2 separate regions of the Homo sapiens genome follow, and region 2 is linked to region 1. Evidence: fine-mapped expression QTL. A gene starts in region 1. The other region holds a variant in brackets. All regions are shown on one strand. Distances are between the middles of the regions.

What was found. PIP is the estimated chance that this variant, and not a neighbour inherited with it, causes the effect. A credible set is the group of variants that fine-mapping cannot tell apart.
Region 2: its variant is the best candidate, but not a certain one, in a credible set for the expression of LINC03125 in tibial nerve (GTEx, PIP 0.89).

What each region holds. Positions count from the first base shown.
Region 1 is chr20:23,145,700-23,151,068 of GRCh38, reverse strand. It overlaps LINC03125 (long intergenic non-protein coding RNA 3125), which reads right to left and starts at 2,966. Exons shown (of 6, transcript NR_199692.1): 1 at 2,655-2,966. RefSeq lists enhancers at 1-823, 2,318-3,517.
Region 2 is chr20:23,185,372-23,190,740 of GRCh38, reverse strand. It overlaps LINC03125 (long intergenic non-protein coding RNA 3125), which reads right to left. Exons shown (of 6, transcript NR_199692.1): 5 at 3,101-3,426; 6 at 434-958. Among named protein-coding and RNA genes, the nearest start is that of LINC03125, 40 kb to the right of the region's middle. The variant C/A (reference allele first, on the strand shown) is at 2,852.

The sequences.
Region 1 (5,369 bases):
GATGTCTCTTTCACTGTGCAGAAAAGAGAGTGGTTTCACTGTGCTCTACTCACAGGAACGGGCCCCTCTTCCTCCTGGGGCAGCCTATGGGAAGAGGGGCAGGCACCTGCCACCCACTGGCTGTCATGGCACCAGAAGGTCACACTCCAGTGGCAGGAGAACGATGGGCACTGCCCCATCCCTCTCTTAGCTTCAAGGCCTGCCCTGGGTGTGAGGGGCAGTACACTGCTGATGGTGCTGGCCCAGTAGCATTGTGCATCCCATGCAGCCCAGCCCTGGCATACAAGCCTGGCACACAGGCACCAGACCTAGCTGCTTCTCCAGTCACCTGCTTGCCTGCTGTGGGGCCTCAGGGCACACTCTGCCCTCACCCATTTTAGGAGCTGCCTCTTCCTCAAAGCCTTCTGAGTCCTCCCCTTCCCTTATGGGTGAGCCCCTCCCTGCCCCTGAGATCTCTGGGGGCACCTGTGCGACTTCTTCCCGAGGTGCCCTATACAACCCCTTGCCTAGTAGATTCAGCTGTGTTTTCTCAGACACCACAAAAGGCTTGTGCATTCTCTCGGGAGCCAGCCCTGGCGGCCTGGCAGGAGGAGCTTGGAGCTCTGTGTGCTGAGGAATCTGGAGCTCGCCCAGGCTCAGGTGCAGGGTTCCATGACAGGCTAACCATGCCTGCTGGGGAGCAGGGGGCACAGCGGAGGGTCAGGCTTTGGGAATCCATGTCCCAGGCCATCGTCACAGCTACACAGCTTTCTTCTTTCCACTTCTCCCTCAGATTTTCTAGCCTTTAAATAGGGTTCCTACAGATGAAGAGAAATGTCCCAGATAGAAACCCCACTGCGGAAAGTGATCCCCTCCCTCTGGGAAATAGAATCTCTGAAGAGGATCTTAGGCAGGATGGCACGCTGTGAGTTCAATCAGCTTTCTCAAGTGTGGATCTCAGGTGAAAACCAGGCCAATTCTCACCACACATCAGGGTCTAGGCTCCGTTTCCTGGCAGTGAGTCAGAGGGGTGACCCGAGGCTAAAGGCAGGATGGCACCTGGTCTAAAAATGGCCATGGTTAATCCTCAGGGTAGCAGCAATGGCATTTTTTGAAGAGTCAGGCCAGGGTAAATAAACTCTTGAGATGTAAATGTTTAGTCTTCTTTATTTCTGCCCATCTTGAGCAGAGCCGGGCCCTAAGCTCTGAGCAGGTTTAAATTCGCACAAGTGATAGGTCCCCCCTGGAGATCCTGCATCCCAGGTGCACTCAGCCCTGGCCTACAGTTCTCCTACAAAAGGCTTGTTCCTAGAGGACATTCACACATCAGAGGGAGAGTTAAGCAACATCATTTATTTGACTCTTCACTCACTTAGCAAACTTCGACTGAGAGAAGAAATTGAGTTTGTTTGGGAGCTGGTCCCAGGGAGCAGGAGGAAGAGGAAGAGTCAGACAGGGAGGAGGCAACACAGGGTGTGTTTCTGGGCCTTTGAAAGCACGCAGATTGCCTCTCAGAATTGTCCCTCTGAAGGACGAGGCCATATGCACTAGCTCCTACCTTGGGGACACTGGTGCCCTCCCCCAAATACCCTTCAGGTGGTGCCTGCACTCAGGCTGAGGAGGAGGATGTCACGGTGTAGGTGCAGGGAAGGGTGCTATCAGGAAGCACAGCTGTGTCCACCACAGCTGGGGGCCACGGGCCTGCACCTCCACACAGGTGTTGGCTGCTGCAGCCTGGGATGGTCCTCTCTCTCCAGCCCCAGGTCCCTGTGGCTGGGCCATAGGAGTCGCTCAGAAGACTTCATCCCAAACTCACAACTACCATCCTCATCTGAACCTTTGGAAGTCATGAAAATGTGGAAGCACTGGCTGGAAGTTAGCAAGCAGGTTATTATCGAGGCAATGGCTTATGCCGTCTTCCTGGGACCTCCATGTGGAGGAAGCCGGGGCTGCAGCAAGACCTCTGTCTTCGCCCTCGCTGTGGGTCTTGGATCTCACCAGAGCAGGAATCCTTTCAGACCATGGTTTCCTGGCTTATTTGTTTTGTAAAAAATCTGCTAAAGAGGGACTAAGAAGATGTGAAAGCCACATCCACGTATTTTAAAAGTTGCACATATTTTAAAAGTTGCACATAGAACAGGGAGGAGCTTGTCCTGTGTATCCCAGAGGATAAAGCTAGGGACAAGGGTGCTCTGTGTGTGTATGTGTGTGTGTGTGTGTGTGTGTGTGTGTTGTTTTGTTTGTGGTTCTCTGTGTCATCCCCATAGGATTTGAGAATGAGGGGAAGTAAAGGAAAACAAAGGAACACTTTAGATTGTCCTCTTGAAAACTCATGGATTTCCAAGCACTGTGCTAGAAGCTGCCACATCAGCATCTTCTGGGAACTTGTTAGAAAGGGAAATTCTTGGGCCCACCTCAAACCCACTGATTCTCATACATGCTCAGGTATGAGAATCACTCTTCTAAATATAGGAAAAGATCTTTCTAACAGATATCATTGACCAAAGTTGCAGTGCCTTTCCTCATGAGGTGGTGAGTGCTACTCTTCTGGAAGCATTCAAGAGAAGGAGTAACCATTAGTCACGCATGTTGCAAAGGAAGTGAACACAACAGGTACAGAGTTCAACTGAAGTCACTTCCTTGGTTGCTCAGTATTTTAGCAAACATTTACTGACCAGCAGTACTGGGCACTGTTCACAGTGACAGGCGACAGGAATAGAAATCCACAGAAGCTCCCCGTTCTTGCCTGCTCCGAAGACTGAAGTCCAGCAGTCTCTCATGCTGTGGGCCCAGACACTGCTCTCTGTCTTGACTGCCAAACCCTGGCTGGCCAAGTGACGATTCACCATCCTTACAACATACTCCAGTCACTGAAGATTCCCCACGGAACCACCACCTTCCTGCTCAGGCCTCTTCATCTATCCAACAGGAGGAGGGGAAAGAGACCATTGACCCAGGACTGCCCTGGCGTGCATGAAGCCCTGAGTGAGGGCTGTGGCAACTTCCCGGCCTGCACACACTGCTGCTGCTTTCTTGGTGCCTATGAGTCATGCCTTGTCACCCGTGTGACATTAATCACTCAGTGGGACTCAGAAATCCAGCAGATGAATTCTGAAACTGAGTTGGGGAGGAGGCCAAATGTCTCATCGTGAGATGAGTCCCAGGGTACAGTCTCGGACAGATGAATATTCTAGATTACAAGGCTTAGCACTTTAACCAGAGAATAAATACAGACTGTGGTTGTTTCCATGTATTTAAAAAAAGTAAATTATGACACAAGTGATGCACATTTGTTCGGGGAAAGTTACAGTACAGATGGGCAAAACCAAAGAAAAAAGTGCATCAGTTCCCCTAAACTCCACCACCCAGAAACAATTGCTATTAACAGGAGGACGTGGTTTACTTCCAATGCTTTTCTGGGCACATATGTAAGTGTGTGTGTGTGGCAGTGCAACCGTGGAATCGCATTGTAAGACTTGACCCTAACACAGCTTTCCATTTAAAGTATATTGTGAATACGTTTCTACGTCAATACATTTAAATGATCAATTTTAAAGCTATCTAGCCCTCTACTGGCATCAATGCAAATTTTCCTCAGATTGTATCACGTTTAAAAAGTTTTTCTAAGATACACCACACACTCTCCTGCCTTCCCTTCCTGTTTTCTAATCCAAGTACAGAAACATGACATTGCTTGTTTCTAGGTGCCTTGGGGTCGCTGTTATTCAGTGAACCCCTCAGGATGTAAAGTTTCAATAAAGAAGCAGTTTGGTAGAGACAAAAGAGCTCCAGATTAGAAATCAGGATAGCTCTGGGCCCCTGTGCACTCAGGCTCCACATGGTTATGCACAGAACCTTCAGAACCTTCAGATTCATCACTAGCAGGATGGGTCCAGGGCGTGGGTCTTTGCTATGAGATCACCTTAGGTACCTCTGGAGGAGCTGGTCACACCAGTGATAACCCTTTGGAGAGGAGAAAGTCAATGGAGGAGGAGAAGACATGCCTCAGAATCACACCCCAGTTGTTGCTTGAAGTGTGGTCAAGGAGCTGCTTATCTCCACCCACACCTCCTCCTGGACACACAAAGGATATACATTCCTGGGCCCAGTTCAGCTCTTCCAAATTGGAACCTTTGTGGGTGAAGCACAAATAACATGCTTTTAAACAAGTACCCCTGAAGTTTGTCACAGAAAGTTGAGCTCATTGCTCCACTCCTAAAATGTCATTTCTCTTAAACATCTGAAACGGTTCTGCTCGGAGAGGCCACCTGTTGACCACTTGCTTGGCTGCTTGGCCTCGTAGGGCAGGGGGCAAGCAGGAGACAGAGGAAAGATCAGGATCGACATTTTTCTTCAGTGTTCCATAGGAAAACCATTCTTTTATGTTTCTCTTTGGCATTTGCAAATACACACCAAAGATTTGCCTCCTGTGAGTTGTTTTTTTTTTTTTTTTTTTGGCGGGGGGTGGGGGGTGGGTAGAATGTCCTTGCCCAGCCCCTTCCTCACTGATTCTTAACCCTTCCCTCTCCCCGGATCCATAGTGCGCTCAGATCCTGACCCTCTGAGACTGCCCAGCCCCGAGACCCGCCACGTCCCCGCAGAACAGTCCATGCAGCGAAAAGATGAGAAACGTGACTGTGAAGCATGGTGCCCTTGATTCGACTGCTTCATTCATTTCAGCAGATGTCACCAGGGCCCTGTAGGGAAGATTGTGCAGATCTGTGTGGTCTAAACAGACAACTTCATGTAGATTGCACTGGATTTATCTTGGCTCTGCCCAGAGGTGATTTGGCTCTGATAGGGAGCCTTCTCATGGAGTGGTTTTGGCCTCTGAGAAGTGGCAGAATTGCTGAGTTCAGCCTGATTGTCCAGGAAGAGCCACATCTTATAGATTCTAATATTTCCTCAAGATCTTGGAATAGCACTGCTATTCACCAACTGATGCTTACTTATTAATTAAACATCTGTTAAACTCTCGATAGGTGCCAGACAGTGTAGTAGGTGGCCATATATTAGAATGAATAAACAGCTGAATCATTGCAGATGAACTTTGTTGCACTTCAGATAATCAAAAACATAATTCAAACTTGTTTAGGAAAATATAATAAATTTCATATGTCGTTTAAATACATAATTAAATAGATAAGATAATAGCTATTCATTACTCACCAAAGATCTGTTTTTTATAAGCACATTTCTCATTTAAATCAAACCCCCCCATCTCTGTGAGAGCTGTTTTGATGAAAAACTTTCACAAACAAGTGGCACATTTCTCACATCTGCTTTCTTAAGCAAAGTGTTCTTGTCTGGAGTTTGATTTGATTTTCTCTGTTGTGCATTGTGCCGTGTTGGGCAAATGAACCATACAATTGCACACCCCACCAGGGTGC
Region 2 (5,369 bases), 40 kb before region 1:
CTCTGGTCTCAAGACAGATGGTTTCTAGTCACCTCGTGTTAAGATAGTTATTCACTTTGGTCAAGACAAGAGCTGCTCTTTGGTCTGGAGCTGCTGTTAGCGTGGGGAATTGGGCATGGTTTTTTAGAATGTGAATATAGATCTCAGGCCACAGTTTGGTAAACTTCACTGTTTGGAAAAAGTTTCCCTCTTACAGCTTAAATTTTTCTTTGCTACATATTTCAGATGAGGGAGATATAAAAGGGAAAAACAAGACATGCGCACATGTAATCCCAAAGCAAATACACCCAGAACCTCCCTCTCTTCTCTGTCCTGGTTTCATTTTTTATCTTCCTCCTTCCTTCTCAGTCCATGAGGCACTTGTTTCATTTTGGTCATTTTAATACTTGACTATTTCCTACATTAAAAAGAAAATGAGACTACCAATGGCAGAGACATTTTAAAACTACTTTTATTTTGAGTAAGTTTTTTGGCTCCTTGTCTTTTGAAAGCCTTGGCTTTGTTCTCGGTGCCTGCTGCTTTATTTCTTCAGACCTGGCCAAAGGAAATTCCCCTGCGCCACAAGGTATCTGCAAAATCTGCTGTCTTACGTGCTTGCAAAGGGCAGAGGGAGATCCACGGCCCACTTGCCATGTGGCCTCACATCGAGGGACGCCGTGTGATATGGCTTGGAGACATGCACTTGACGGCAGTGACAACAGCTCTCAGCCATGTCTGGCAGCCACTTACTTTCCCCAAGCACATCATATCATCACCTGGGAACAGCAGCTCGCCTCCTTGGGAACACAGGTTTGAGGTCTCATGGCTTCCCAGGGATAGGGGAAAAATGCAGCAGAAGGATTTGGGGCCAAAACCCATTTCTTCTCCCCAGAAGGACCACCTGGAGGTCTCTCATGGTCTTCGGCTCATCTTTGCAGCAGCACTAACCAGCGTGGGCATACTCTGCTAGGACTTCTGCCTAAGGGAGAGAAGGGGTCTCTTACCTTGGTCACGCCCTTGCCTTGAGCACACGGGCGCCAAGCTTCAGAAGGGAGACAAACCCCACACGGCTATAATTAGGGGCTTTCTTAAGTCCCTGTCACGCATGATCAAGTGTGCCAGGATTCGGGATCATACTTCCTCCCAGGACTTCCAAGCTCTTGCGTGTGATCTTCTCTAAGTCTGGGGGCTGAGGAAAAGCCAGCCCTCCCCTCCCACCAGCACCCACCCAGTGCATCTCCACCCATAGCTCTCTCTCCCAGCCAGGTCTGGACCAGAGATGCCTCAAGACAGGCGACATTGGTGACATCAACGGGACCCCAGAGGGTCTTCATCTCACTCTCAGAAGCAGGCAGCATTCTGAAAATCACCCTCACGGGCCTGCCTCTGCTCCACAGGACACCCGATGGCCCGAGGAGCTCAGATTCACCTCTCCCACCAGGGTTCTCTGTTCCTTTAAAATCCCACCTTTCCTGTCCTTCTGATTCAGAGGAAGGAGTTCTCAGGACTGTGTCTCCTCCTCCACGGCCCTGGGATCTTTGCCTATAGAGCTCCTTCTCCTCCATCTGTGAGCAAACCTCCTCCCATAGGCAGAAACCACATCCACACACACAAACCCACACAACACACCAACATCACACAGACACCATGCACACTCATAAACCCACACACAACACACCAATATCACACAAACACATATAAACCCACACACAACACACTGACATTACACACACCAACATCACATACACATAAACCTACACAACACACTGACATCATACACACAGACACCACACACATAAACCCACACAACACACCAACATCACACACAGTCACCACACACACATAAACCCATACACAACACACCAAAATCAGACACACACATAAACCCACACACAACACACTGACATCACACACACTGACATGATGCACAAATATACACCCACACACAACACACTGACATCACACACACAGACACCACACACACATAAATGCACACACAACACACCAACATCACACATACACATATCAACCCACACACAACACACTGACATCACACACACCGACATCACACACATAAACCCACACACAACACACTGACATCACACACACAGACACCACACACACACACACAATCCCACACAAAACACACCATCAGACACAGACATCACACACACACACATAAACCCACACACAACACACTGATATCACACACACCAACATCACACACAAACATAGACCCACACACAACACACCAACATCACAAACACAGACACCACACACACACATAAATCCTTACACAACACGCTGACATCACACACACAGACACTATATACACACACAAACCCACACAACACACCGACATCACACACACAGACACTATGTACACAAACATCACCCACAGACACCAGATGCACACACCACACACACTCAAACTTCTCTCTTACACACACTCTTCCATCACACCCTCACAGAGTCATGACACATGAGCATACTACACACATATCACACAAATATTCACAGACACACAGACAACCCCCCCCACACACACAATGCACACACCACACAACTGTCTCCCCGGGCCCACACCCTGTCCATATACAGACCATGGAGAGCAAGAAGGGCTGAAGCTGGTCTTGCCCCTGCCTCCTGGAGGAGGAGGGTGCACCTGAAAACAGACCCAGCAAGAGATGGGAGCCCCGGGAGCAGCCCAACTCCAGGTCCTCTGCAGAAGTGTCCTAGCCGCCACCAGGCTGCCCTGCATGGCTCAGCAGTTTCCAGTGCCAGGCTGCAGGGAGGTGTGTGGGGCTGGAATGCGAAGGCAGCAGAAACCGCCCTGCTCACTCTGACGTCAAAGAAGGGAGGGAGCCATGGG[C/A]AGTTGTGGCAGCTGTGGTTCTATACCGGTCCCAGATCTCACTGCCCATCTGCTTCCCTGCACCCGTAGGGCCTGCTGAGCTGGGCAGGGCAGCCTGGTGGCAGCTGGGTCACTCCTGCAGAGGACCTGGAGTGGGGCTGCTCCCAGGGCTTCCATCTCTTGCTGGGTCTGGTTTCAGGTGCACCCTCCTGCTCCTGAGGGTCATCCTCTCTCTCTAGAGCCCTGCCCTGGGGTTCCCTCCTTCCCTACCTGGTTATCTCCTCCTTCCGGGGATCGCCCTTAATAAACACGTGCCCCCAGTCCTCATGTCAGGGTCTGCTTCAGGAGACACAGGATGCTCGGCAGGGTCTTCCATGGTGGGGACTCCCACAGCTTCTTTCTGGCTGCCCTGCCTTCAGGCTCTGCCAGTGGTGGCTCCCATTTCCCTCTCTCCCCTAAAGAAGAGCCTCCACCAGGTCCTGTTCTGGGCCTGTCACCCAGGGTCTTTGGCTCTGTCCTTGGTGGTTCAGGTTAAACGGTGGCCCCCTCAAAATTCAAATGTCAAAGTCTTCACATGCAGTACCTCAGCAAGTGACCTGATTTGGAGTTAGGGTCTGTGAGAGGTACTCAAGTAAAAGTGAAGTCACACGGGTGGGCCCTGATCCAGTAGGACTGGTGTCTTTACAGGAAGGGGAGATCTGGAGAGAGACAGGCACAAGGGGAAGGTGATATGGAGAGCCAGGGAGCAGATGGCTGTCCACCAGCCAAGGTGGGAGGCCTGCACTGGACCTGCCAGCCACCCTCAGGAAGAGCCAGGCTGTCCAGCACCTTGATCTCAGACTTGTGACCTCCAGCCCTATGCAAGAATAAACGTCTGTGGTTTAAGCTGCCCGGGGTGTGTTCCTTGGTGACATCAGCACCAGCAGACACCCAGTGAGAAAGGCTCTGCTTTGCCTGGGCCCTTGTGGTGTCCCTTTGGTGGGCAGAGACTTGCCTGTACCCGACAGAGCCACGTGCACCTGGGTGGGGTCACCTGGTGCTCACCAATCTCTTCACCTGGAACATCAGGCCTGGCAGATGGGACCACCCGAGCATAGACTCCACCTGCCAGCCTAACCTGCTGTGAGTTCTAAGAGAAGTCTTTTGGGCAGTTGACTTTTTTTTTACTTGCGAACCTGGAGATGGAATCAGCCTAGAGTACCTGCCTGAGGCCCTGGGAGACTCTGTGGAACCGAGCCCCACCCCTTCTCGGCCTAGGGGCGAGTGTGGCTGCTGAGCAGGCCCATCCAGGCTGATGGGATGGTGGGGCCTCAGGCAAGGAGGTGACCCTGGCTGTTCCCTAGTGAAATGTAATTCCTACCTTCCTCACAGGACCCAGGGCAGCTCAGAAAACCCCTCTGAGGAGGGAAACAGTATCCAAGGAAGTAGTGCTGTGTTCTTGCCCTCTTCGCTGGTACCTGCAGGGAAGTTCTCAACATTTCAGAGCCCTTGGAGCCTCCAGTGGCCTCCTGCTGTGGTGGGAAGAGCACGGACATGAGCCAGCCAGCCAGAGCTCCAATTCCAAACCCACTGCTTACCCACTTTAAACTAACCTCACCTCAGTTTCCCCACCTGAGTGATGGGGACGAGACTATTCCCCTCAGAGTTCAGTACAATGTGGGCACTCTATCAACGTGCTTGCCAATGTTCTAGAAAACAACAGTGGCTCTGGATAATTTGAGGAGGCAGCAAGGGTAGTGATAAGGACAAAACAAAACAAAACAAAACAAAACTGGCAGGGCCACAGAAGGAGAAGGGGAAATTTAGGTAAGAACTCAGAAAAGCATCAGAGTTAGCCAGAGAAAGTCCTTTGTGAGGGGGGCTCTGTTCCAAGAAGGCTGAGTAGGAACAGCTCCAGTCTGCCGCTCCCAGCATGATTGACAGAGAAGATGGGTAATTTCCACATTTCCAACTGAGGTACCTGGTTCATCTCATTGGGACTGGTTGGACAGTGGGTGCAGCCCACGGGGGGCAAGCTGAAGCAGGCCGGGTGTTGCCTCACCTGGGAAACACAAGGGGTTGGGTGATTTCCCTTTCCTAGCCAAGGGAAGCTGTGACAGATGGTACCTGGAAAAACAGTACACTCCCACCCAAATACTGCACTTTTCCCAAGGTCTTAGCAACCAACAGACAAGGAGATTCTCTCCCGTGCCTGACTTGGCAAGTCCCATGCCCACAGAGCCTTGCTCACTGCTAGCACAGCAGTCTGAGATTGAACTGTGAGGTGGCAGCTTGGCTGGGGGAGGGGCATCCACAATTGCTGAGACTTGAGCAGGTAAACAAAGTGGCCAGGAAGCTTGAACTGGGTAGAGCCCACCAGAGGTCAGGAAGGCCTACTGCCTCTAGGCTCCAGCTCTGTGGGCAGGGCATAGCTGAACAAAAGGCAGCAGAAACTTCTGCAGACTTAAACGTCCCAGTCTGACAGCTCTGAAGAGAGCAGTGGTTCTCCCAGCATGGCATTTGAGCTCTGAGAATGAACAGACTGCCTCCTCAAGAGGGT